3 separate regions of the Homo sapiens genome follow, and all the other regions are reported to be linked to region 2. Evidence: microRNA targets listed by miRTarBase, many of them from high-throughput screens and not tested one by one. Region 2 holds a microRNA gene; each other region holds the end of a gene's coding sequence.
Evidence for each region. Region 2 holds the annotated microRNA hsa-miR-504-5p (AGACCCUGGUCUGCACUCUAUC, at 2,451-2,472, shown strand). A microRNA usually pairs through its seed, bases 2 to 8, with sites in the 3' UTR of a target mRNA and lowers its output. Matches are read on the target gene's strand: a 7mer-m8 pairs with bases 2 to 8, a 7mer-A1 pairs with bases 2 to 7 and ends in A, and an 8mer does both.

Region 1: miRTarBase lists MTFP1 as a target of hsa-miR-504-5p. The part of its 3' UTR that is shown has no 7-base or 8-base seed match.
Region 3: the mRNA of C11orf58 is a reported target of hsa-miR-504-5p. The part of its 3' UTR that is shown has no 7-base or 8-base seed match.

The regions. Positions count from the first base shown.
Region 1 is chr22:30,427,729-30,434,928 of GRCh38, reverse strand. It overlaps MTFP1 (mitochondrial fission process 1), which reads right to left. Exons shown (of 4, transcript NM_016498.5): 4 at 5,875-6,467. The coding sequence ends at 6,395. It overlaps LOC105372990 (a long non-coding RNA gene), which reads right to left and starts at 2,243. Exons shown (of 4, transcript NR_148046.1): 1 at 1,685-2,243; 2 at 1,034-1,312; 3 at 544-637.
Region 2 is chrX:138,663,032-138,670,231 of GRCh38, reverse strand. It overlaps MIR504 (microRNA 504), which reads left to right and starts at 2,439; the gene lies at 2,439-2,521. The region is part of intron 3 of FGF13 (fibroblast growth factor 13); the gene reads left to right.
Region 3 is chr11:16,754,229-16,761,428 of GRCh38, forward strand. C11orf58 (chromosome 11 open reading frame 58) reads left to right here. Exons shown (of 5, transcript NM_014267.6): 5 at 643-4,112. The coding sequence ends at 876. Among named protein-coding and RNA genes, the nearest start is that of C11orf58, 19 kb to the left of the region's middle.

The DNA.
Region 1 (7,200 bases), not on the chromosome of region 2:
ACTATTTGTTTACTGATACTGAAAGTTGAGAGAATATGAAGCTATTTTTTTTCCAAGGACAGAAAAGATAACATGTTGTTTATACTATGGTGTGAGTGACTACAAGCCTTCTCTCTCCTCTATGAAACTCTCAGAAGGGCATATATCAAGGGTTATGTGGGTGGAGGTGAAGGGGTCTCCAGATATCTGTTTAATAAAGATTACATGAGAGGCTCAAAAGTGGCAGGCCAATCTAATGCTCTCATTTTGCACTTGGGGAAACCAAGGCCCAGAAAGGGAAAGGATTTGCCCAAGGTCCCACACAGTAGAAGCCTCTCCAGACAGGATCCAGAAGCCAGGACCCTCCTTGGTTCTGATCAATGGGCACCTTGAGTGGGTCTTTGTGGTCCAGGCCAGTGTCAGTTTCCTCAGAGGCCTTTAGTAGCAAGATGATGTCTTCTATAAGCCTGTTCATGCAAGGCTGTGACTGATTCCCCGGGCCAGCTGCCTCCCTTGCCTCAGAGCCTACCTCCACCCTCCACACCCAAAACAGGGGCCTCCTACCTGCCAAGGACCTTTGATAGGGTAATCAGGGGGCCAGGCAGGTAATCTCACAACTGTCACTCATACTCCCAGGGAGGCATCCAGAAGTTCTTACCTAGAGGTGAGGGATGGAGGTGGTCAGTGCACCAGAGATGGGAGCTAGGGGTGGCATGGACCAGACCTGCATTTAACAAGCAAAGAAACAGAGGCTAACAAAAGGTCAGTGACTTGCCCATGATGTCACAGCCAGCAAGAGCTGGAGCTGGGATTTGAACCTGGGTCTAGGTCACAGTCCAAAGCCTCCATTCCCAGTATACCTCACACTGCCCACTCTAGGCCAAAGCAGTTGGGCTTGTGGTCCAGCCAAGCATGGGGAACTATTGCAGAAATTCAATCTGAGCTATTTTGAGCCTCAGTTTCCTCACCTCCCACACAATTAAGTGAGGTCATGTACCTCAAATGCCAGTTACAGGGTAAGGCATGCAGTACACCTTTGGTGAACATGACTCACCATGAGTGCCCCTGTGGAAGGAACAGGCCTTCTTGGTAGCATCAGATGGGACCTTTAGATTCCAGAGCAACAGCTTGTGGTGCACCCCGTAACTTCCAAAGATTCCTCAGCTTGGGTCTCTGTTCCTACGGGGTGGCAGAGTGGGGAGGGGGTTATCTGTTTCCACTCACATCAGCAGGAGTACCAGTAAAGCTGAAGGCCTGGAAGGAGAGCTCCAGTCTCTTGGGGACCTCTTGGGGCACGAAGTGGGAGTGGAAGTTCTTGCCGTTCACCAGGCACCTGGAAGGCACAGGTTGGAAGGTCATCAGGGTCAGACCCCTGAACTGGGATCTGGTCCTAGCCCCAACACCACCATACACCATCATTTGTTGAGAATTCTGCATGCCAAGCACTGAGCTAAGCGTCACCCCATTCAGTCTACACAGCAGGCTTTGAAGATTCTGGCACTATCCCCATTTCACAGAAGGGCAAACAGAGGCTCCAGAGGTGAAAGGGCCAGTAAAGCATTCTTGCTCCCCTGGCCTAGAAAGGACTACTCAAGAACGCCCAGGGAGCACTATCTGGGCATCCGTGCCTTCCAGCCCTGGAAGGCTCTCAGCCCCTGTCCCAGCCTCCCCAGAGATATCACCCACTGAATTGTACCCATCCTACCCTATCCTCCTCCTCCAGGTTCAGTACCCATGATTCCTGACAAGGCTGTAGTGTGCAGGGGCCACTTCCATATCCTGGCTGGGGCTGATCACACACTCGTCCACATATACCTGTAAAGGCTAATGGGAGCTGCCAACCACAGCAAACTCCATGTGGAGCTCAGAGCCCAGGAAAATGGTGCTGGTGTTGGTGGGGTCTGGATCCTCCAGTATGGCCCCACCCTGAGGTGGAATGAAACCAAGATGGGGAAGACACGAGACCCAGAGATGCTGAAGGGTTTGCCTGAGGCCACACAGCAAGAGGAGAAGCAGGAAAAGCTAGGGCCAGGTGGCCAGAAGCCCAGTGCCCTCACACTCTGTTACTGGTCCTCCCTCACTTCCTTATTTCTCCAGGGGTAACCTGGCCCAGAACTGGAGGCACAGGAGTCCCTGAGCTAGAAGACCTTCCTCTTGGGACATTACTTCAGCCCAGCCAATGTCCCCCACCTGTGGGAGGCAAAGAACCAGGCCAAAGTCTCATGCTGAAGTCCAGATTTCCAAACGCAGCCAGAGAGTCAGTGACCAAGGAGGTGGGAGGTGAGATGGGAGCTCCTGGGCTGGCAGGGAAATAAGGGGGGGGCGGGGAACATTGCAACTCTGGCATGTGAGGGGGCCCAGAAAACAAACACTAAAGGCCCATGCCAAGTCCCCCAGGGCAGCCCATGAGGAGGAAGAACAGGAGGGAAAAGGCCAGGAATTCCAAATTCCAACCCCCAGGTGAGCATTTCCAGCCCTGCCCCAGGCTCACACCAAGTGGGGGCCAGGAGGTCAGCGCCTGGTGGCCCCTTTCTGGAGGGGCAGCCCCCATCCAACCTACCATTCCCTCTTCCTGCAGACCTCCAGGTGGCAGGGCCCTAGACAGGCTTAGGGGTGCTAGGCATTGCTCACGCCTTGACCACACTGCTGACCCAATGGCGGGAGGCAGCACTGCAGGGCTGCTCTGAACTGGGTGGTGGTGCATAGACCAGGTCAGCAAATAATTCCACTATCTTTCCTGAGATCTGCGAGGATACTTGCTCCTTAGGATGGTGGGAAAAGGCAGGAAAGGTCTACTCCCAGCTTGGGCCCCCACCTCACTGGGTGGTCTTGAAGTCACTTGCCCTGTCTGGGCCTCAATTTCCTGCTAGGCCTCATTCGAGGTCCCTGTCTTGCTTAAATGCCTATTCTGGCAGGGCTCGGTGGCTCACACCTGTAATCCCAGCACTTTGGAAGGCCGAGGTGGGAGGATCGCTTGAGCCCAGGAGCTGGAGACCAGCCTAGGCAACATAGCGAGATCTAGTCTCTGCAAAAAAAAAAAAAAAAAAAAAAAAATCAAAAAATTATCCAGGCACACGCCTGTGGTCCCAGCTACTTGGGAGGCTGAGATGTGAGAATCACTTGAGCCTGAGAGGTAAAGACTACAGTAAGCCATAATTGCACCGCTGCACTCCAGCCTGGGCAACAGAGCGAGACCCTGTCTCAAGGAAAAAAAAAGCCAATTCTGCTTTGAAGAATGATGTGCTGAGTTGCATCTGGTGGTAGACAGTGGGGTCTTCCCTTCTGTGAGCCTCAGTGTCTTCATGTGGAATATGGGAATGATGGTTTTATCTCCTCACGGGGCTGTTGAGGATGCAAGAAACAAATGCACGTAAAGGGCACGTACAAACACACAGATGCTAAATGGCAAATCTGCATCAAATCCTTAGCTACTGAATTCTGCAGAGATACAGGGCTCTGCATCTTTGAGAGAAAAACTCACACTCGGAGAGGCTGTGACTTGCAAATCAGTATGATCTGATTCTACCCTTCTTTCCAGCCCAGACACCCCAGCTCTTCTCCCCCGAATCTCCCGGGTACTCCCTGGCTCTTGGCAGCCTTGTCCTCGTGAGCCTCCAACAGCCCCCTCACCAGTTGGATGAAGCCATAAGCTTTGAATGGGGCAGTGAAGACCTCATAGCCAGGTATGGCAGGGACTGGGGAGGGCAGGCAGGTGCCAAGGCACAGGTGGCAAGCATCCACCTGGGGCTCCTTCCTCACTGCCAGGAGGACATCTGTCTGATTACAGTCCTGCAGGAGGCTGTCTCCTGGCAATCCAGCCCAGGCTAGCTCAGGCGGAGAACCAGACTCAGCGAGAACATGGCCAGCAGAGGGTGCCCAAAAACCTCCCCCAGCATCCCCCACCTTCAATTAATTCCCTGCATCTCCAGAATGGAGCAGGGAGCTGGGCACAGTGACTCACGCTTGCAATCCCCGCATTTTGGGAGGCTAAGGTGGGCAGATCAGTTGAGGTCAGGAATTTAAGACCAGCCTGGCCAACATGGTGAAACCCCGTCTCTACTAAAAATACAAAAATTAGCTGGACATGGTGGCATGCACCTCTAGTCCCAGCTACTTGGGACACTGAGGCAGGAGAACTGCTTGAACCCGGGAGGCAGAGGTTGCAGTAAGACAAGTTTGTGCCACTGCACTCCAGCCTGGGTGACAGAGCGAGACTCAGTCTCAAAATGATAATAATAATAATAAATGGAGCAGGGTAAAATGTTGGGGGGTTGTGGAGATGGTGGTGTTTCCCCCTACAGACAGGATGTCCACCGACCTCATCCCTATCAGCCTGGCCTGGGAGTGCCTCAAAGCCCCTTCTGTGAGCACCTACTATGTGCCAGGCATCTGCAAACTTGCACCCCGGTATTTCCTCACAAGTTACCACCAACGGGGCAGTCAAGGGCAGAGGTGGCCCACAGTAAGGCATAGTAAGGGGCAACAACAGAAGGGGCACTGGAGCTGGTTCTGAAGGGTGCTCATAGCTGGCCAAGAGGAAAAGGATTTGCAGCTGAGGAACAGTGTGTTGTGAGGAAAGGCATAGAGGCACAGGAGGGCAGGTGATGGGGAGAAGGACAAGGCTGGGCGCTTAGGCCCATGAGCACAAAGCCTATATGTGGCCTGCACAGATCCCAGCTTGAGGGAGAGCCTGCAGAGTGGAAAGTGGAGAGTGAGTGAGCAAGGAATTGGTGGTAGATGCCAGGAGATGTCACAGGGATGCAGGTGTGAATGTACCCCGCATGGGGCTGTGACTGCCGGGGGAGAAGATGAGCTGGGAAAATGCTGGGCTGGAGAAGGATGTGAGTGCCAGCTCAGACAGGGAATGGGGGGTGGGGTCGGGGGCTAGAGAACAAGGCGGGGCTTAAAGCCTTTAAGGGAGCTGGGAGGGAGTGACAGGTGACTGGGCAGAGGCCATAGGGGCTTGGGAAGGGGACCTTGCCAGTGTGGGACAATAAGAGTAGCAGAGAAAGGCTCAGCCCACATCAGACTCATCCTGTAGCCATGGATACCCCCAGAGCAGCAGGGGCCACCACCCCGGAGCCCCCATCCTGTCTTGCTGGCAGCACCCCTACCCAGCCCTGCAGCCCCTTTAAGTCCCAGCCCAGGTGCAGGTGAGTCCCACCAGGACAGGGTCAGCCTACCTGACTGCACCTGGGCTGCAAGGGATGGGGCCAGGGTCTTGGTGGGAGCTGATTTGGTGCTTGGGGCAGGGCTGAGAGGGGCCCAGGTCTGCTTCAGCCCTGTGCTCCCACCTCTCTACCTCTCTGAGCTGTTGAGGGGGATGGCCCAGGATCAGAGGAATGGCCCCCTCTAGCACTCTCGAGCCCAGCAGCTCAGGGGAAGCCACAAGGAAAACAGGCCATTCCCTGATTCTGAGTGTAAGAAGCCCCCTGGTCACTTCCTTCTCCAGGCTGCCGAGTCCCCTCATGAGGAGGTCTCATGTGACCCTCATATGGGGCTGACACCACCATCTTGGCCACCTTCAGGCTCAGGTGGTATCTGCCCAACAGGCTCCCCTCCCAGAGGGGTTGGTGCTTTAGGAGGCTAGAAAAAGAGGGCAATGCCAGGCTGAGTGCAGTGGCTCATTCCTATAATCCCAGCAGTTTGGGATGCTGAGGTGGGAGGATTGCTTGAGCCCAGGCATTCAAGGCCAGCCTGGGCAACATAGGGAGACCCCCATCTCTATTAAAAGTAAGTAAGTAAAGGGTAATGCCTACCCCAAAGGAGGCTGGCAGCACCAACGTGGGATGCCAGGCACCTGCAGGGAAGCACTAATGGGCGGGGAGACTGCTACCCATCCCTCCTCCCCACCACCACATCCCTGCTCCTCCCAAACAGAAATGAAGACATAACAACCTCTTCAGGATTTATTGGGTCAGGGAAGGGCCTGGCCAGAGAATCTGTCCTGAGGTGTCCCTGGTACTGCACTCCTGAGTTTCTCCCTGAGTTGTCTGCCGCTCCTTGTTCAGCCATACCACCATGGGGTGACTCTGTCAAGCACCTGGGGGTCCTGGGTGCCCAGCTTGCCAAGTGATCTTGGGCCTATTCCTTGCCCTCCCTGAGCCTCAGTCTCTCATCCTCCATGGGAGGATGTAATTTTCCTGAAAAAGACAGGGCCGGGCCCACCCAGGGTCCACTTCCACTCAGCATCTTGGATTCCAGGGAAGCAGACAGCGTTCAGGTCCTGCCCTTCTGTGACTCCCTGCAGCCACTGCTTCTTGAAGCCTTTGTCTCTAAGCTTCTGTCCAGCTCAAACCCACCCAGGTGCCAGGGTCTTTGGACACCAGGGAGCCAGGTGTCCACATTCCCTGGCAGGAGTAGGAGGTTGACATGAAGCAGGAGGCCGATGCACAGGCCAGGTACCAGAGTATGATCAGGAGGAGCTGGGCTTCCCCACTGTTGGGTAGAGCTTGCGCAGGCTGGAGTCCAGGAGGAAATCCACCGACCTGTAGGGAGTGGAAGGGTGGTGAGCAGGTGACCAAGGGTGTTCATGAGGGAACAGAAGGCAGAAGGCCAGGGTTAGGGAAAGGGGCGCTTAGATGCAGGATACAAATGCCATCCAGCCAGAGACCCACCCTTATCCTGATCCTTCCACCTTGGGCTACCTGGGGAAGCTAGAATCAAACTCCCAGAATAGAAGCCATCCTCTTCTTTATTCAGGAGGAAACTGAGGTACTGGGTAAAAGACTTGCTCAGGGCCTCAGGGTCAGCTATCTTCTCCTGGAGAAAGACTGCTCCTCTCACTCTTACATTGGTCTGGTTGGGTTGAGCCCATATCTAGTTCTAAGACCAAGCACGTGACCCAAGCCTGGCCAATCAGCAAAGGGAAACTGGCTCATAGGGTGGGCATGCAGTCCAGAATGGACCAATGACACCCTTCCTTGGGATTTTTGTTGTTACTGTTTAAAAGCTTCTGCTGGGGGAGGCTAAGCTGGTGGGATAGAACTTGGGAGCTGCTAGGGCCATTTCTACTCCCACAAGGAGAAAGCAGGTGAAGCCAGCAAGAAATAGGGTGGGGTGGGGAGAAAGGCAGCAGGATGGGGAGACCCAGACCCCTAATGACATAATTTGGGTACCTAGATCTAGCCATGCCTGAATGCAACACAGCCCTGGACTTTTACTCCATTTTATTCAAATATTCAGTTTGAGTTAGGCTTCTGTCACCAATACCTCCCAAAA
Region 2 (7,200 bases):
GAAATTGGAATAAATGAGATTTTACTGTGTACTTTGCCTGGAGCCCTCTCTTGAAGTGTATTCAAAGGGAATTAAAGGGCTTATTAACGGATAGGACTATTTGTGTTAAAGATGAAGTCTGTTGAACATTTTCACCTAAATATACCAATCTGATATTCTTGACGTTTTTTTGTTAAATTTGATGCTGACAATAAAAACTTTGGAATAAGCTATAATTTCTGCATCCATGCATATTCAGGTCTGAAAATGAAAGAAGAGTGTGACAGGTTTGCATGTAGAACTTCCCACCCACTCATTTCTTTCCTTTCTGCTTCTGACACTTCAGCCTTTGAAACAGTTTCCCATGAGCAATACTGAGATTCAGACTATTTAGATCTAAAGGAAAAAATGCAAGCTCTTCTACAGCTTGTATCTAGCACCTGGAAACGTCTTAGAAGAAGTGCTAAAATGTAAATAATGCTGTTATTTGTTATGCACATAGGAGAAATCCTAAAGGTATTTTAGGGAAGAGATGGAATCCAGAGATATTAAGAACAAGGTGTGGGGGCCAGGGGAGAAGGGGAGAGGCAGAAGGATCCTATCCACATTATTAAAGTGAAATATTTCCAGTATACTCTTATCAACTGACATGTAGACTGCATGCCGCTTTCATGCAAAGGTATCACATTTCAAACTTAGCATTTAAAAGAAGCCAGACAAGAAAGGAAAAGAGACAGTTATTTGTTGAAAAAAGTCTGGGTTTAGCATCAGGCACAGGGGTTATTGGTAGTTGTCTGAAGTACACTGGAGCCTTGTAACATTGTTTTGTGCCATGTATTGCCAGCCTGATACCACTGGAGTACATCCTCTGTCTAGTTTTCCAGAACTCACTACAATAACTGTAGGATTTTTCCATCCTTTATGAAATTGCATCAGTATTGTGAAGGGCCTTAAAAGCCATTCAGTTCAACAACCATCTCCCAAAAGAAAAGTTCCTCTTCTTTTTCCATTTATTTTATCTCTTCCCAAAGCCATGGGGACCTAGATACATCAATTATCCTTTGTCCTGTACCTTCACTACCTCCTGGACTACTACCTTTTTTCCACTGGCATACAGATCATTTCAAGACTTCTCATCCTAAAAAGTCCCTCCTAAGTTTCTCTTTCAGACTGTCTCTTTCCTTTGATAGGCAAGAGCTTTCTTCATTTTCTCGCCTATTTTTAAATTATTCAGCTTCACCTTTGCTTTTATTTTCTCATCTAATTCTTAATTATTCAGCCCTCCGCATTCTATCTTCTGCCCACATTGCCATCCATGAACTCCTCCTGCTAATGTCGCTAGTGACTGCCAACTAAAATCCATTTCTCCCTTCAGTCCTTACCTTATTTCTCCTTTCTACAGCACTTGACCAGGTTGGTCAACTTTTTCATTGAAACCATCTCTTCTGTGGGCTTTCACAACACTGCTTTTTCTCTGTTCTACACCATCACTATTTTTCTTTTAATTTTTACACTTCCCTCGTCTTTTCTGAAATGTTTGATGTCCTCCCCACCCCCAGTTTCCAGCCTCAGTAGTTGTCTTGTATTCTGCTTGTGTTCTCTAGATTATTAAATGTATTCTTGTGGTTTCAGTTACCATCCATATGCAGACACCTTTCATCTTGAGAGCCAGGCTTATATATACAAATGGCTGCTGCACATTAACCTATCACTAATGGCTCTTTAAACTCAAAATAACCAACAATGGAGTCATTGTCTCTATCTCTGAAATAGAACACACTACCCTCCCCCACTTCTTCCCCTTTTTACCCTGTGGCAACAACCTTTTGCTATCCTGATTTTAAGCAGGCTGCAGCATCATAATAAATGATACATAATATCTGCCTTTAAAATGCCTGTAGTGGTTAAGAGGGAGGGCTCTGACATTACATGGATTTGAAACACAATTCAAATGCTTATAAGGTTTATGATTTGGGGCAAAGGAATTATTAATCCATCTGTCCTTTAGTTTCCTCATCTATAAAATGGAGGTAATAGTAGTATAGACCTCATAGGGTTCTTAAGAGGATTAAATGGAATGATAATACATGCACAGCATTTTACAGTGTTAAGTTCATTAAGTTAACAAATGCTTCATATTATTTGCCGTTACAGTCCATATAATAACATGCTGCCTTCAGGCCAATATATATAAGCCTATAATTCTTGGAAGACTATGGAAATCCTATCATATATTAAATTGTCATTTTTTTTAAGACTAAGAAAAATTTATGTAAAGTCCAAAAGTACAGCTGTTTACAGGGGACGAACTGATCCACAAGGCCACAGTCTACCCTCATCAGTTAGTGTCCATCACTGAAGTGGAATAACTCAAAAGGAAAAGGTAACTCAACGAGCCATCCATTTCCCACATAGAATCACAACAGAAGACAGAAAATATGGAGTGGAATGTTGAATCAGCTGCTGTTGGGAGACCCTGGTCTGCACTCTATCTGTATTCTTACTGAAGGGAGTGCAGGGCAGGGTTTCCCATACAGAGGGCACAGACTACCACCGTATGGCAAATGTTGACTGGAACTCAACTTCAAAGCCATTTCACCTGGAATCTTACCCCACCACCCCAATGCTTCATGAAAATTCAACTGATCCTCTTCTATGAAGAAACTCAATCCTGATAAGTCTCTTTAGTAGTTATTGAAATGTCTTTGTAACTCTCTTATAGTCAGGTTCAGTAAGAATGTTAAGTTTCTAATTGAGCTTTTCTTTCTGAACAGTTATTTTGTGTATGTTTATTTTCTGTTTACCAATGTAATATATGTTCTTTGCAGAAAAATTGGAAAATACAAAAAGGTATCTACAAAGTCCCCCAACCAAGAGAAAACCAATATTAATGTTCTGTTATAGATCCTTGTAGTGGCTAGCTGGAATTCGTGTATATCTCTCTCTCTCTGTCTTTGTCTTTCTTTCTCTCTCTCTCTCTATATATATACATATATTCCAAATATACATTTTTATGTAATATATATGTATATTATATATGTATACATATATTCCAAATATACATATATATCTTCATGTAATATATACGTATTTTATATATATGTATAAATACATAATATACATATATAACCTAATATATGATATAGCATAATATATGTATACACATATATGTGTACATATATAAAATACATATATATTACATAAAGATATATATGTACATTTGGAATAACTATGCATACCATGTTTCAAACCTGCTGTTTACTCGTTATTATGACTATTCCTCTATATATTAAAATATTATTCTTAATCTACATTTTAGTGGTTGAATAGTAATAATCTATTTAGTTTGTTCTCTGTTTATTTGTTTTTGTTTTTGGGAACAAGGAACTGTTCACACCTAAATGTGTACAACCTTTATGTCTAGATCAGGCACTTGAATTCTTAAAAAAGTGTTAGGAAATGGAATAATGATCTTTTATTTATAAGTTGTATATGTTTCTGTATTCTGTTCATATATGATAATTGAAATAGACCTATATCTAACACTTTAAAATTTATAGTATTTTCATCTTTATTTCCTCATTTGATCCCTGCTACACCTTGTGAGATAGAGAAGGGCTTATTATTCTGTCCTTATAGATAAGGAAACTTATGTCCAGAAAGATGAAGTGGTTTTCCAAAAGACACGTAGCTAATAAATAATTGACAACATTGGAATTTGGAATTAGAAAGCAAGTCTTGTGACTCCTAACCAATACTCTTTCCAGTACACTTTGCCATGTCCCAACTTCACTTTCTTTAAGTGCTTCTTTCTAGCACCTCTTATTCAATTATTGTCATACGTACTTTTTGGATCATACCTTAGGAGAATGTAGCTTTCTCATGAATTTCCTCATTAGCTGACAACTGAATATGGCTAGATTTTAACAATAAAAACACATTTTTTTCTTTTCAGGAATGCAAATACACAGTGTATTATATGTAGAAAAAACTCTCAGATATTGGATCCTTATTGATGAGGCTTATGAGATAATATAGCAACTCAGACTTTTCTCAGGAAGAAGAAAATCCATGTCTTTTGTTGGACAGTTTAGAGAGTCTAGACTACCATCATTCAGCATTTGAACATTTTGATTTCAAAATGTAGACAATTGAAGAAATACAATGTAAATGCCAGGGAATTAAATCATAGGACAAAAACTCCCTATGAAAACATCTTAGTGATAGCATACATGTTAAAATTTTTGAAAACACTGGGAATGGTTTCACTTCTCATCTGAGTATCTGAGAAACAGATGATTATGTACCTCCCAGCCCTGTGTCAGCCCTAATTTAGTTGATGGCATTATTGCTCCCTGCTTTCTTTTTTTTCTCTTTATAGCAGATTGCTATTCTTTTTTACTTTAAAATAGCACCTTTTGCTGCCCTGTCTTATCCTTGTGCTCTTTTAAAAAGTGGTCAGGCACACACTTTTGTCACTAGTTTTACATGAGGGTAGGGGCTTTCTCTTTTCTTTTCAAAAATTAAGTGCCACTACATCTCAGTTAAACTGCCTTCATCTGACAAGCACTTACAGAATACTGAAATATAATCTACTGCAAAAAATCTACATGTTTTTCATAAATACGAATGAAATGCTTTTAATATTATCCCTGTGTTCAGAGTTAATGCTTAGGCATTAACTAAAGTACGCTAGACGCTTTTGATATATTTCCAAAGGCCCAGCCAGAAAGATATATTGCAGATACACATATTCTAAGTGTTTACAAAATCTTCCAAAATTATTTTGCCTGTGTCTGCTTAAAAGGCACAGGAAACAGCTCCCCTACTATCTCCTCTATCCAGTCAGGAACACTTGCAGTAAGGACACTGGTTGTTCAGTGCACAAGGATTAAAGTAACTTAATTACACAGTCAAATCAATAATAAATTGAGATCATTAGAGCCTTGGCTCGAGCTGAACCCCAGGTAGCCGTGGAATCCCTATGATACTTGAAGAAGAATTGACACAGATTCTAAGGCCTCACAGGTTCAAGGAGAAGCAGACAGCCTCACTTTGTTCCTTCAAATTAGTTTTGAGTGGAGGAATCTTAGGTTTAAGTGAGACCTGGATCTTGTTTTGGGGTGATCTCTGGAAACTGGGATATAATCTACTCTCCAGGGTAGAAGACTATGAAGGGACTAAAGGAGCAAACTCTAGGTCACTGAGAACCCCTTTCCTACAAACAAAGATCTTGGTTGTGTTCCCTCACTTCCAGAGAGCTCATTGGACCGAGCATACCCTTGAGTATTAAGGTCAGTGCATACTGAGTTTAAAAACAACATAGGTATAAAATTGAATGGAGCAGTGGTGAGGAAGGTGGAAAAGGATGAGAAGGGAACTTCCTTTGGACTTCTTTGAGCCAAAATAAGTAGTATGTTTCCTAAATTCTTGTAATCAGACCATTGTTGGCTATTGGTAGAGGGAGGTTCAGATTTTCCATCTCTATCTTTTTTCTTCTGTTTCTTGGTCCTTCTGCCACTGCTTCTTTTAAAAAGAAATAAACTCATTTTTTTCTCAGCCTTATGTGGGAAACCCTCTTGGCATTTTCTAACTGCCAAGTGTTCTATAACTAGCCATCTGTGGAATATTTTTTTGTTAAGTTAATTTTTTAAATTAATTCATTTCCCTTTTCTCTCTCTCTCTCTCTCTCTCACACATGCAAACTAGTGTTTGAAGATCAATGAGCAAATGATCTTTCTTGTAACAACTTCCCTTTTTCAGCTGATCGCTTTTCTGAATTTTATCTCCTAAAATCACTTAAATAATTTCACTGAAACAAAGGAATGATTGGTCTTTTAAAGACTCGTACATGTATTGAATATAACATTTCCGACCTGACTAATAATTTGAAGTAACTTTGAGCTTTTCGAGGGCCCTAGCCAAAACAAAATGTTAGATGGCCTTTAACATTTATGTCTTCAAGGGACTGTGCTAGCCAAAGTTTCCTCCCAATCTGGAGGCAGCTTTGTGCCATAGCAATTTTCAGGCTTCATTGCATCAATCAAACAAATTGTTCTTGTAGTGCTTACTTACTGGGGAATTCACCAGCTGGAAGATTGTACCATTGAGCCAAAACAGGCCACTGGAACAGCCATACTCTTTACTTCATTTATGGAGCCATTTAAGAAGATGCTGTAGTGGCAGCTGCCTGTTTGTCAGAACAGCCTTGGAGGTGTGCTGAATGAAACCTAATTTAGACTAGTAGATGATCAGATGACAAAGAATACCAGAGATACAGGTGAATCACAAAAGAAGATGCTGTGAGACTTTCTGTAAGGAATTCCCCACCATGACTTTAGAAAAACTAAAGTTTCAGCTGCAGTTATGTTGAGTGAAGTGTAAAGCCTTGAAAACATAGACTAAAATGGTCCCCCTCCTCTCTCTCTTATCATATAAACACACCCCAACCCTATAATTTTTCTGATACAAATTGTATTTGGATTTTGCATAGATGGCCAGTTTACTTTTAAATAAGAATTATATGCCTGTTTATTTGAATGTCTGTTCCTAAGATTATCCACAACCACAACTCCATTTATTATATGTTTACATAATGTTGGGTGAGGGAGAGTAGTCAATGATGATTCATTTGGGACTAGATACAGAATTAAAATATAAAACAAATATTATCATTCTCAAGGTTTTAATAGATGGCTGAACACAAGGTATGAGTTTAGAAATTGTCATCCTGGATTATGGTGTGGATTTTATGTGCACCTTTTCATGATGGGCATCAGCTGCTTTGTATATTTTGTTCCCAAATCTTGTTAGTCAACTTTCAACTATCTGTGTATATAAATAATCAAGGTGATGTTAACTGCTTTATGGATTTTCTTGAGCAATTTAACACAAGATTGATTAGTGATTTCTGTCTGTAGAAAATGTTTGATTCCAGGCTGGCTTAGCCTCACCACACTTCTGACTGCCTCCTCCCTATCTGAGGAGGCTCAGAAAATACACAATCATTTCAATATTCACCTAAGCAAAATAAAATAGGAAGATAAATTTCTGCCCTGAATACTGTGATGCGTAATATTAATACAAAACTCCAAGAGAAATACATTTGAGGTAATTTTTTTTTTAACTTGGATAACTTAACTGTGAGTAGAGGCCTGTGATTCCACAACTTCACTAATGTGGAATTTTTTCTTTCTTTCCATTAGTCCAGACTCTAGACTT
Region 3 (7,200 bases), not on the chromosome of region 2:
ATTAATTTAAAAAATTGTTTCTTTCAGGAAAATATAATACCATGGTTTTCAAACTAGGGGAGGGGAGATAGGTGTGTGATCTTCAGAGCACCTCCCCTCTTGTTTTCTTTTGTCTTTTAAGAAATGGAGTCTTGCTCTGTCACACAGGCTGGAATGTAGTGGCATGATCATAGCTCGCTACAGCCTTGAACTCCTAGGCTCAAGCAATCCTCCCACCTCAGCCTCCCGAGTAGCTAGAACTACAGGCATGCACCACCATGCCTGGCTAATTTTTTTCTTTTTTCTTTTTTTTTTTTTAGTTTCTCTCTCTCTCTCTCCCTTTTTTTTTTTTTTTTTTTTTTTTTTTTTTTTTTTTTTAAGAGACAGGGTCTCACTATGTTGCCCAGGCTGGTCTCAAACTTTGGGCCTCAAGCAATCCCCCTGCCTCTCAGCCTCTTGAGTAGCTGGAATCCCAGCCACAGGTATGAGCCACTGGGCCCAGCCAGACAGAGCTCTTTCTTAAAATTCTACTCAAGTCTTAAAGCTGTTGTTCTAATGGCTACAAAGTAGAGTGTTTCTAAGACCGACAGAACTTACGGTCTTTCTCAGATTTTGTATGGGCTAATGTTTATTTTTAAAAGAGCCTGTTGATTGATGTTTTAGGTAGAAGACCATGATGGAGAAGGTGATGTGGCTGGAGATGATGATGATGACGATGATGATTCACCTGATCCTGAAAGTCCAGATGATTCTGAAAGCGATTCAGAGTCAGAGAAAGAAGAATCTGCTGAAGAACTCCAAGCTGCTGAGCACCCTGATGAAGTGGAGGATCCCAAAAACAAAAAAGATGCAAAAAGCAATTATAAAATGATGTTTGTTAAATCCAGTGGTTCATAACTCCCAAACGCTTAGTCTTTGTATTAAAAGTAAGCCTTATTGTTACAATGCACAGTGGAGGACTGCTTATAGAGCACAGACCTTTGTATTATAATTTTTAAAAAGGCCCTTTTAAATAATTACAAAGAGTGTTTGCTTTCAAATGCCATGGGTTACACTTTTATGGGCATGACTATAACCATTTTTGTAAAGAGTAAGAGTTGTATAAAATAAGAAATAAATACAGTACTCAACTTCCTTTCATATTAGCATCATCAACCCTCTAATTCACCTTATGGGGGAAATGCTTCTTTTTGTTTGTGATAGCTATTTTATCATTTCCTTCATATTTTTCTCTTATAAAAATGTATTTGATACTGTGATATGTTCACGAAAAGTATTCTTTAATTATTCTTTGTTATAGTAGAGCTGTTCATTATGGATATTTCTGCTGCCAGTCACAATCTAAATTAATTTTGGCAAAAGATTGGGTACTTAGTTTCCTGTTACTGAGTTAGCTCTACTCTTTTGGACCAAAGCAACATGAGAGCAAGTACTTTTCACACTTGTTAAGATGGAGTTATAACTGTCATACATTTGGAATATTATGATCCCAAGTAGTCTTTTTATAATTTGGATTGTATCGTATGTTAGATTTTTGATAAAATTTGGCCAATTTTTACAGAAGAAATTCTCTGATCATTTAGTTCTGTCTATTTAGAAATATGTAAAACTGGATTTTTTTTTAAGTAATATGTGACCAAAGTTAATTTTGTCCCAAAGGTCTAAATAAAGAGCAGTTTCCCATATTTGGCTGTGATACCTTTATCCTCATTATCTACAAATGAGGAACAGGCTTACTGATAAGAAGCTGAAACAAGAAATTCTCTTCATTTTATCCCAGTGCTATTTTATTGATTAATTACTAAAAAGTATTACTTTCTAATTTTATTGCTGTTTCTGTTGGTGTGAGATTAGAATCATCTGACTGCTATTAGGTGGTTGATTTGTATAGCTGATTAACACAAATTGCATTATGAGCTAGTAAATGGATCTTTGGATAATGGGGTCCAAATTCTTAATGTTTATAAGTAACAAGTTCAAAGGCTTTAGTCACACCTGTTTGTGAGCTGAGCTATTATACATCTACATACTTAAAGGATGTATTTGGAGTGTTGGATTTTTTTTTTTTTTTTTTTTTTTTGAGACGGAGTCTCATTCTGTCGCCCAGGCTGGAGTGCAGTGGCGCGATCTCAGCTAACTGCAACCTCTGCCTCCCAGGTTCAAGCGATTCTCCTGCCTCAGCCTCCCAAGTAGTTGGGACTACAGTCATGTGCCACTACTCCTGGCTAATTTTTTGTATTTTTAGTAGAGTTGGGGTTTCACGGTGTTAGCCAGGATCGTCTCGATCTCCTGACCTCGTGATCCACCCACCTTGGCCTCCCAAAGTGCTGGGATTACAGGCGTGAGCCACCACGCCCAGCCTTGGAGTGTTGGAATTTTTAAAAATTATTCTTATGTCACTTTGAAATGTAGAACGTGTTGCCATGTGCGGTGGCTCACACCTATAATCCCAGCACTTTGGGAGGCCGAGGTGGCTGGATCACCTGAAGTCAGGAGTTTGAGACCAGCCTGACCAACATGGAGAAACCCCATCTCTACTAAAAATACAAAATTAGCTGGGCGTGGTGGTGCATGCCTGTAATCCCAGCTACTCAGGAGGCTGAGGCAGGAGAATCACTTGAACCCAGGAAGCGGAGGTTGCAGTGAGCCAAGATCACCCCATTGCACTCCAGCCTGGGCAACAAGAGCAAAACTCCATCTCAAAAAAAAAAAAAAAAAAAATTTAGAATGTGTTAGAGAAATTTAACAAGTAGAACAGGTGATTTCTGGTTGATAGACTCTATCTTGCAGTATATTTATTTCATGTATCAGACCCCAAAGTTGTTGCCTTGTTATTTTTTTAATTTCTCACATTTTTGAAAAATAGATGCTATCCTCTATAGTAAAATATTGAATCACTTTATAGTAGACAATACATATGACATTTAACAAATACTTGGTTTGAAAAAGTTTGGCTTTATTCAACAATTTTAGTTTGCCCACTGATTTTCAAATGTCTGTGGGATTGCTTATAACTAAGTAGAAAGTGAAGACTGATTTTTACTTAAGAATGGGATAGAGATGAGTTTTATGGTTTTTAAAAGTATTTTCAGTTCATTATTTAAATGTTGGGTTGTTGATATGGTCTTGTTTCTGATAAGGAAATAGGAGCAACTTGTTTTAAAATAACTACACTAAAAGACTTTCTTCATCTCCGTATAGAGAAATCCAGATTTCAATTAATTCATTTATTGGGTGCTAACAAAATTCAGGGTTAGAGTAAATTTAGGTCTGTTGGTCCATGTGGCCTGGTTTCCTAGCACCCATTAAACATAATGCTATCTTTTAAGCCTGAACATGTGGGTTTTTTAAATCAAATTGGAAAAAAATTAGACAACTGATGTCATGCTGTCTTGGTATCCATACTAAAAAAGTATCAGGAAAATAGATTATTTTTGTGCTGTGAAACACTATTCAGTGGAAAGTTTAGTGGCAACTTTTCCATATCATTCATGACTTAATACCTGAAATGCACTTTTAAATGTTTGCCTTATATCCAAGTGTTTACTTGTATCCATGACCTAACCGTCTATTGAAAAGAATGTTTGCAGATGCAGATTGCAATGTTGTTTGTATTCATAGGCAAAAGTCCTCTTCTCTAGTATAATTTTTTAAATCTGAGAGAATTGAAGGTACAGAAAAAAATTCTGGAGTGCCTGAACCACAGTTTGAGAGCACAAAGGTCACATTCTTTCAGTAAATTTGGGGGAAATAAATTTCAGCTACCTGGTTAGCTTCAGTGACTACTTACACACAGGGCTTTGGTTCCATTACTTGTTTCCACCACAGCCACATCCTAAATACTTGGAATATCCGAAAACAACTTCTAAAATCACTCAATAAAAGTATTCACTTCTAACCAACTCCTCCTCCTTTATACCTGCTCTGTGTTAGGGCGTAGTCTGTTTCCACCTCTGTAAGTCCTATCTAGGCTTCCTGATCTATCAATTCAGTATCATGATTGTTAACCCAAACGACTTCCTGGAAAATTCCCAGCCCTAGATGTATCCAAGCCCTCCTACCCTCACCAGTTATTTCTGGAGAAAGATCACCAAATGTATAAATCCGTATTAGTAAAAATTGGTTTTAACTGACCTCAGCACTGCCCATTACCCTTATTTTCTCTAGTCGGTTCTCCATTCTTACTATGTAAAACTTATACTCTGAAACTTGTTACCCTCTTTTTTTCCTTCACTCTTAACATGTCCTTGCCTTCTATCTTACATAAAAATAGAGACCTTCAGGCACAAATTCCCTGAACTTCACTTACTAAATCCACAGCCATGGACAAGATTCTGTGCTCTAGGTTGTGACATCCCAACTCTACCACAGGGCTAAACTCGGTGACCTTGAGCATAAGTTGATCTCTCTGGGTCTCCTTTCTGGGTAAGTAAAATGAGGATAGTAACAGTAACCCCCTTTGCATAGTTAGTTATTGTGAGACTTAGGTAAAATGAACAAAAAGCTTAGTGCATAGATAAGTGATCAGTAAGTGCTGGCTCCTGGTTCCCACCACCCCCTCTGCCGCCCCGAGATGGGGTCCTGCTCTGTCACCCAAGCTGGAGTTCAGCAGCATGATCATGGTCATGGCTCACTGCAGCTTTAACTTCAACGGGCTCAAGCCCCTCCCACCTCAGCCTCCTGAGTAGCTGGGACCACAGGTGTGTGCCACCACACCTGGCTAATTTTTTAATTAATTTGTAGAGACTGGCTATGTTGCCCAGGCTGGTCTTGAACTCCTGGTCTCAAGCAATCCTCCTGCCTCAGCCTCCCAAAATGTTGGGATTACAGTTGTGAACCACCACACCCAGCCTACTGTTGAATCTTTTAAACCTTGTGAATGTAGTGCTTATTATCTTCCCTTGAGTCTTCAACCTCCCCCTTAATCTGTGACCCTTTTCTTTTGGCATTTGTTCAAGTATTTCATATCTTTTTAAGCAAGTTGCTCCTAGGTACCACCTATGTTTGGTGTAATTCTCTCATCTATATCTAATTTTAGTAACTTTTCTATTACTGCCTCTATTTCTTACTTCCATCCCCTCCCTCCTCAATCCACTCCAGTGTGGCTCCTACCCACCCTAGACACAAGAGCACTGAAAACTTTAATCAAATCAATTATTGACATTTTCCTAAAACATAAGTACTTGTAAATTCTTCCCTTGACCTGTTAGCAGTACTTAGCATTGTTAACCAGTAGGATGTACGTGCTTAGTACATGAAGGGGTTCGGTAGATAATTTCCCAATCCTGTACATCCATATGTATTTGTTCCTAAATTGATCTGCCTTAAGACAACTACCTCTTATTTCACAGCCTTTCTCCCACTAGAGGAAAGGCAATACCTCTCAGCCATGCCAGACCTACTGTGTTTAATTGTCCCAGGGAATAAAATATTTCATGGGTCCAAACAAAGGGACAATTTGAAACATTCATGTTTATGTTGAGGCCTGAATGACTCCCTTTGCAAGTCAGATGGTTTCTGTCATCTGTCAGATGCCCTCAATGAAACTAGCAGACAAGTGAATTGTCAGCTAATTTATTAAAAATAAATTTTGATGCAAGATCACTATGATTTTTGGCCTAAGAGTTCAGAAGATTGACATTCCTAAAACCTATTATTGACTTTTTATCATGTGAGCAAAGTTTCTCAGTGCTTTCATCTATAAAAATAGAAAATGGACGGACGTTTTCTACTTTAGGAACTCCAGTTATGTGCATGTGTCATTTCCTATCTCTATGTTATTTTTCTTTATGATTCCTCTTCCTTATTTCCCTTATCATGATTCAAACACTGTATACCCCATCATTCCCACTTTCATTTTTGCGGTTATTTTTGATTTCCTGAGTTCTGCCAGCTCACATTTCACTCTTTGTCATTTCATTGTATCTTCCTTTTTTCTTTTCGAGACACAGTTTCACTCTTGTCACTCAGGCTGGAGGGCAGTGGCACCATCTCGGGTCACTGCAACCTCTGCCTCCCAGGTGCAAGTGACTCTCCTGCTTCAGCCTCCCAAGTGGCTGGGATTACAGGCGCATGCCACCACACCCGGCTAATTTTTGTATTACTAGTAGAGATGGGGTTTCTCCATGTTGGCCAGGCTGGTCTCAAACTCCTGGCCTCAAGTGATCTGCCTGCCTCGGCCTCCCAAAGTGCTGAGATTACAGGCATGAACCACTGTGCCTGGCCTTATCTTCTATTTCTGATGTATGTTCTTGTAGAGATGAATCTTTAATTAAGATATTAAAGTCATTGTAAAATATTTAATCATAATTTTCAAATATTTGAAGCAGTATTTTTCTGGAGAGTGTTTTTCATCTGCCATTTATTTTTCTCTCTATTATATCCTTATACAGAGCTTTTGCTAGCTTTTGTTTTTTTAATTGTCTGATCAACTGCAAGTATTTATTGAGCACCTGCTATGTGCCAGGCAGTCTTAGGCACTGGGAGTACAACAGCAAACAAAATCAGACCCTGCTTTAATAAAGCTTAGACTCTAGTGGAGGGGAGACACAATAAACACTTCATATATATATACATACACACACATACACACACACACGTTATATATATAATATATATAATAACGTGTTATATATAACATCTATTATATATGTATTATATATATGTTATATAATACATATATAATATATATATAATGTATATATTATGTATATATACACCATCTCGGCTTTTAGTAGAGATAGGGTTTCACCATGTTGGCCAGGATGGTCTTGATCTCCTGACCTCGTGATCCATCCGCCTCAGTCTCCCCAAAGTGCTGGGATTACAGGTATGAGCCACCATGCGTAAATATATATATATATTTACATATATATCTCATATATATGTCAGATGGTGCTAAATATTAAAACAGGGTTAAGAGATGTAATGAAAATAAGCTAGGGTCAGCAGAGGGTTATGAGTTCAAAGAGATAGCAGGAATTAAGATCATTAAAGCCATGATATGAACTTTGAGTTTTATTCTGAGGAGAATGAGAAGAACTTGCAGATTTTTTTAATTAGTGTGACATGATCTAATATTGCTTAAGCTGCAATATTAGATCATATCACACTAATTAAAAAAAAAAAACTTGGGAAGCCAACTGTGAAAATTAGATTATGGCAATATTCTAGGTGAGCCCAAGGGCTTGGACTAGGGTGGTAATGGGAGTGGTGGGAAGT